Linked DNA regions of Homo sapiens. The protein of the gene in region 1 purifies or fractionates together with the protein of each later gene. This does not show direct contact. Each region holds a gene or a part of one and is shown in the gene's direction. Other genes may lie near its edges.

What was found. Proteins that work in one complex are often made in the same cells at the same time.
Region 2: the proteins of BANK1 (region 1) and ITPR1 purify together in Homo sapiens (affinity purification with western blotting, with the first as the bait; one study listed by BioGRID). This does not show direct contact.

Annotation. Positions count from the first base shown.
Region 1 is NC_000004.12:101,832,230-101,835,729, forward strand, and holds part of BANK1 (B-cell scaffold protein with ankyrin repeats), read left to right. Parts: intron 1-3,500. UniProt on the Homo sapiens protein: Involved in B-cell receptor (BCR)-induced Ca(2+) mobilization from intracellular stores. Promotes Lyn-mediated phosphorylation of IP3 receptors 1 and 2.
Region 2 is NC_000003.12:4,839,348-4,842,847, forward strand, and holds part of ITPR1 (inositol 1,4,5-trisphosphate-gated calcium channel ITPR1), read left to right. Parts: intron 1-3,500. UniProt on the Homo sapiens protein: Inositol 1,4,5-trisphosphate-gated calcium channel that, upon inositol 1,4,5-trisphosphate binding, mediates calcium release from the endoplasmic reticulum (ER).

The DNA of each region.
Region 1 (3,500 bases):
TAGTTGAAGTTTAGTGACTTTACTAGAATATTTTAGTGCTGACTATTCTGGATTATTTTTCCCAGGGACATGCTTTCTTATTTTTGTTTGTATCTTTTTCCCAAAATGTAGAGTCAAGTCTTCTTTTATTTCATGAAGAATTTCTTAACTTATATCTAAGTTTACGGTTTATTTTTCAGGGACTCCTTTTTTATGTATTTTGGATTTCTTTAGTCTGCACTGCACTCTACAATTTCTCTCTAATCCCTTTGAGTCTATTAATATCTAATTAACTTAGTTTGCATTTTCACTTTAACTTTTGCTACCATTTTATACTTTCATGAGTTTCTCTTTCTCTGTATTACTTCCAATCTCTTTCGTTTTCATAGTACTTTTACTTTTTCTCATTGTACCTTTTGGTTGAGCACTTATAACTTAAAATTCATCTCTTGTTCTTAATTCACTCACCTCTCTCTAACTTCTTGCATATCTGCACTATATAATTGCTTTCAAAAGGTGATTTCTATTCATTACATTTTAAAAATTCACGGTGAAATGTTTGGTTACAATTTTCAACTTTGTTTATGGTAACGTGTTTAGTTTTTGCTCCCCATCTCCATTGGTTTTCTCCTTTCCTCTTTTCCTCCCTCCCTCCCTTCCTTCTTTGCTTTCTTTTTCCCTCCCTTCCTCCCTTCCTTCCCTCCCTCTCTCCTTCCCTTTCTCACTTTTTCTCTTTTAGTATCTTTATATAGATTCTATGCTTGTTCAGGTTTCTTTCTTTTTTTTTTGAGACGGAGTTTTGCTCTTGTTGCCCAGGCTGGAGTGCAATGGCACAATCTCAGCTCACTGCAACCTCCACCTCCCAGGTTCAAGCAATTCTCCTGCCTCAGCCTCCTGAGTAGCTGGGATTACAGGTGTGTGCCACCATACCCGGCTAATTTTGTATTTTTAGTAGAGATTCGGTTTCTCCATGTTGGTCTGGCTGGTCTTGAACTCCCGACCTCAGGTGACCCACCCACCTCAACCGCCCAAAGTGCGGGGACTACAGGCGTGAGCCACTGCACCTGGCCTCAAGTTTTCTTATGTGTCACTGAGAAAAGTGAGTTTTTTTTGGTCCAGCCAATGGAGATAGACAGAGTGGGTTTTGTTGTTTGTTCTGTTTTGTTATTGTTGTTGTTATTTTACAATAAAAGACTGTACTTCTCTGCTTCCACAGATGTAGACTGCTTTCTGTAATATGATTTTTCTGTATAGCTCTTAATTTAGCCTCACTTTGTCTGCTTTTTAGAACCAAACTGCTTCCATAGATGCTTCTCCCTCAAATTGTTGCCTCATATCTACAAGGTACCCTTAGCCTTATAGGAAGTAAGTTTGCCGGCTCTTTTTTAAAATCTGCAGCTTCTGGACTGTTTCTTCAAAGTGTCTTTTCTCTGTTTCCTCCTGTACACCCTCATGCTGTATCATCACTGTTTTAGGAAACAGTTCATTGAATTTGGGTCTAGGATTTCACTGTTTCCTATTTCCTCTAAGTAGGACATTTGCATAATATTTCCTCATTGTCTATGTGTTGGGATGATTTCCAAGAATAAAAAGGGGAAATATTCACAGTACACCATAATGTTCAAACTGGAAGTTTTCAAGTTTCTTATGATCTCTTTTTCTCTCTCTCTTTTTAGTATTCCTCAAGTATATTAAACTTTTTTGACTGAAAAGAAAAAAGTGTTACAATAGGAAAATTATTTTTTTAAATCACAGTAAAGCACAAGTAAGTTTATGCTACTCTTCTCCCTGAAGATTGTTAGTAAAATTTTAGATGGCTCTCCACACCCATAATTTCTATTTATTCAAAGAACTCATGTTGTTTTGGCCACTTGAGCTATAATGTCACTATTATGTAAAAATATTTGATATATACCTTTTTGTTGTTTCAGTTGTTTTGTTTTATGATGAGTATTTTTAGGTGGATATGAAAGTGGTATTCTGCTATGTCTTCAAATTATATTTCTATTCATGCTCGGTAAGAGGAAAAACTCACACCTTATAGACAACACAGCACTATTTTGGAGACACTATTATCTCTCATCTGCCCACATTGATTTTGGACTCTGATTTCTTAGAGTAACTTAGATGTGCCAATTGGAAAATATAACCATCTTATTTGGAAAAGGGTGTTCAAATATAGTGCATTTTTGTCTGAGGTACAAGAATGCAACCAGAAGCATATAGTTGTATTTCCAAGTCTACAAATGGTAGCAATCTCCAAACTGCATAAAATAACTTTTATATGTGGGTTGTGTCCTTTGAAGAAATTGGTTCTATTTGCTGTAGTCTATGCAGTGATAAATTTGCTTAAGTGCTCTGCTAAATTATTTTATGTTTATGTTGCCAATCATGTTGAAGACATAAAGTCTTGTATTTAAATTGAGATCAGTACAAAAAAAAATGGGTGAAATAGGACAAAGAATGTGGAATTCAGATTTTACTGTCCCTTTTCTATTTTTCCTCATTCCATAAAGAAATTATACAAAGAATAAGGGAAACTTATTATTCAGAAACAGGCTATGAAAAAGAGAATGATAACAATGCCAGGAAAGTCATGGAAATAATTAAATGTTCTAATATATTAATATAACACAAAGAAAAATCAGAGGAAATTTTAAGAAAGAGAAAGCTATTTTATAATTAATCAAGGCTCCAGAGAAAAGTTTTTAACATTAAAATTTTTTTAAAAGACACAGTAATTTATATTTTCTCCTAGTATTTTATTTCCTTTAAAGGAATTAAGAAAACCAAATTTCCTGTCTTCTTAATTCCCAAATTGGGAGTAACACAAATCCAGCTGTATTTACTCTTTTCTGTGTGTTTTATAATCGTTTGTATGACATTCCTTCCTTTTTCTGTCTTCTATTTGTTAGTTTTGGTGTTTTACCTAACTTGCTTTTCTAGTCTTTCCACATTTATAGGCTTCATACAGCATTGTTTATATGTGATATAAATAAGCTGATCTGAAATTGTTATAAAATCAACTGCCGTTTCTGAATATCACCAACATGTACTTGAATCCTTCTGGTTTTCAGGATCCTGGCACCTCTCCAAGGCCTCTGTCCTCCCTTGTTCTTTGTTCTCAACTCTGCCCCCGTCACTTCTGGACCAGGCATGCTGGTTTGCTTGCAACCCCTGAGCTACCCTTTACCAACAGCTCTCTCCATGGCTTATTTTCTCATATTTTCTTCATTGTCCATTAACAGGAAAAACTTCTCTTTCTTGAAGAACCTTAACATTTCCATTTTGTTTTTCTGTTACCAAACCAAGGATTTCAAATTTTTAGCTTTATTTTACACTTTTTAAAAGAAGGACAAAATGAATAGTAATGTAACAGTAGAATTATTGGAAAGGCAAAACAAAACAAACAACAGAACAGAAACAAACTATGCAGAAGCATTGTTTTCCTTTCTTTCTGTCTGTGCTGTGTATTGCTTAAGAACTCTGACTCACTGGACCTTCCTAGAACTAGTCAGTGA
Region 2 (3,500 bases), on another chromosome or scaffold:
GGTATAGGACAGTATCCGAGACTTCAGATGCCATCTCACCTCATTCCCTTATTTTCTTGATGAGGATACCAAAGGAGCCCAGAAGGTTCTTAGGCATTGCCAGGGCAGGAGCTCCTGATCATCCAGTCAGGGGTGTGTGTGTGTGTTTTTATTTGCTTTGTTATGTCACTGTACTGTTTGCCTTTCATGGTTGACTGTTTAAGTTCTTACTCTTTTTTTAAAAAAAAGCTTGAAGTTTCAGAAGTCAAGTCGCATCATATACTTAAATGGTATGGAGGATACATTCATTGTCATTTTATACAAGTGAGCATAGTAGAGACTTGGCATTTCTAAAATCCAAGATAAGATTATTCTGGATAAGCCAAAGTTTTAGTTTAAACAAAATATGTAAAATTTGATTACATATGGACTAAGGTTCATTAAGTGACATTAAAACCAGTATGGTTTAAACTGCTTGATTCCAGCCTTTTATGCATTTTTTATTTTGAAGTTGGCAGTTGGAACCACTCTTCAGAAAGCCCTTCCCCTGTGAATGAATTTGAACTGTTTTTTTTCTTGGAAGATATTATAAGTTAAAAAGAAGCATGAGAATCCAGTAGTACATTCTCAAGTGCTTTTACCAGGATTGATCTACTTAAGTTTTAAGGTACTCAGAATTACAGGAAAAATTCAGCATAGCTGCTTTTTTTTTTTTTTTTTTTTTTTTTTTTTGAGGGGGCAGGGGGATTTGCATCTTTTAAAAGGAAGTAGTCAGTGTTTTCTTTTGATTATGTAACGTCCTACAAACCTTTAATGCATTTGAGAATCAACTTGTTGAATAGATTTGAATTTCATTAAGTTTGGTTATAGCAATCATAAAGGTTTAAAAACCCTTTATGTGCAAAAGATATTAAAAAATGCAGATATGTTACAGAGCTGCTCTTTCTTAAATAGTAATTGTGAGAATTCTTGCCCTTTGTGGGAAAAAATTTTGAATTAAAAAATAAAAGCTCCATGAATGATTAATGACCAAGAAATCTTGTGATATTTTTTAAAACAGCTATGAAAGAATACCATTCACTAGTAAAAGTGCTAGAAAACACAAAAATTGCTCCATTACTTAGAGGTTTTTTTTGTTTTGTTGTTGTTGTTGTTTGTTTTAGATTTTCTGATTCAAAAACCAGCAGACTCGAGCAACGATAGCTTAAATGTGGATGACTTTGGTCTAAATCTTTACTGTTATTTACCTCTTTGATTGTTTCGTTATGTATCAATCTGAGGGAAAAAAGTTCTTGTTAGGATATTAGTAAAATTATGGTTAGTGGTGTCACTTTTTCTATTATTGCCAAGAATGGTTGGTTAGGATTGCTATTCTAAGTATTATTTAACGATGCCTCTCATCTTGAAGTTTCCCCTCCCAAGAGATTCTGAACACTAAATGTGATTCTCTTACATTCTTATTCCAAGGAGGAGAACTAATGTAAGAACTTAAAAATCTTTTGCATGTTTTCTTCATAATGCAAAAGAGCAAATACTAAGAAGGGCTAACTTTCTTGAAAATATGACTGGCTTCCTATAGGACAGCGACCATTATTTGCTGTTGCTAGGAATACAAGAAGTGCTTGAAAATTCAGATCACATTAGCATGTTACAGCATTTGGCATTTTTCATACAAGAGGGTTATCTTGCTAACATTAACTGCTTAAGGACAGAAGGCATAACACAAGATTAGAATAACTGCCCAAAGTTGGAAAATGGAATATTAAACGACCCGTACTGCATCTATGTTCCTTATACTGTGCTGGGACCACAAAAGAAGACTAAGTCAACATCTGCCCTCTAGATCCAGGATCTAGCAAGAAAGACAAAGAAGTAGACCTCTAGCAATCTGATACAGTATGAATGACTTGAGGCATGAATAGTTTCATGGAGCACAAAGAAGTAGGTAGGTAGTGGTCCTGTGTGAAGTTTGCAGTGCAGAAGGAGTTTAGCTTTTATAATCTTACAAGCAGGTGACTTCTGAGCTGGCAGAGAAATGCAGTAGGGGGCTTCCCAGGAAAGGAATCAGCATGAGCAACGGCATGAAAATGCATGGCATGCTCAAGGAATGGCAGTATGGTCTGGTTAATTCCGTTCCTTCTTTCAGCCAACACATATGAAACACCTGTTTGCCAGGTGCGGCATTAGGTACTGGGGCTACAAAGATGAATAGATCCTCTTCTCTGCCTTCAAGAACTAAAAGTCTAGAGTGGGAAACAAGTAAACAGATCAATTATAATTAAACTTGGTGAGTGTGTAACCGAGCTGTGAACACATTGCTCTGGGAATGGAGAAAAGGGAGTGATTTGTTCAATCTGATCTTCGGGAGAGGATTAGAGTAATTACCACAGAAGTCTTCTCAGAGGTGGTAATTCAGGAGCTTGGTTTCAAAGCCTGAGTAAGAGTTGGCCAGGTGAAATAGAGAGAAACAGAGCATTTGAGATCAACTCTAAGAATCTGAATTGTATCTATACATTGATAGTAAATCAACATATTTGTATTCAAGGGATGGTTTGGTTTCATTTCTCAGTATTTGAGGCTCATCATTCTGAACATGACTGATTTTATAGGGCTGTAGAAAATAACTGTGATTACTAGAATTTGCTAGCTGTTTAGAATCTGAGTAACCAAGACCTTCCTGTAACATGAAAGCAGCTTTTCAAAGACTATTAAGATGTGTTATAAACCAGAAATGTGGCATTTGTGTGCTGTCAATGAACTTTCCTTCCAGTGCCAGCCTTTAATCATTTAGAGGCAATACTGGTAGATTAAAATTTGCCCATTTCTACTGTATGCCTCGTGTTTTCATGAACAGTCTTTCAGATGTCTGGCTGTATCTGACTTGTAAAGCTACACTATTCTTTGCTTCTTGTTTAGATGAGTCAAAAGGAGGAATGCTGAAATTCAAGCTAGTTTCTACATTTGTATAGATGTGAAGAACAGCATTACTACAACTGTTTATCCTTAGCTACATGGGAATTTTGAGGTTTGGTTTGGGTTTTTTGCTTTGTTTTGTTTTTGAGACGGAGTCTCCCTGTGTTGCCCAGGCTGGAGTGCAGTGGCACGATCTCAGCTCACTGCAGCCTCCACCTCCCAGGTTTAAGTGATTCTCCTGCTTCAGGCCCCCAAGTAGCTAGGATTACAGGCATGTACCACCATGCCTGGCTAATTTTTGTATTTTTAGTAGAGATGGGGTTTTACCATGTTGGCCAGGCCGGTCTCGAACTCCTGGCCTCAAGTGATCTGCCTCCCAAAGTGCTGGTATTACGGAGTGAGCCACCATGCCCAGCCGTTTTGAGGATTTTTAAATGTACTATAAATGAGACATCTCACACTACTCAAAATAGATGTTTCAATATTAGAATTTTGAATACAGTTACCATAGATTTTTTTTACTCAAGAGTCAATTTTGTTTCAGATGTCCAGAGAGACTATTATCTGACAAAAATGCTAAGGATAGACTTTGGTCATTATATTTGTTT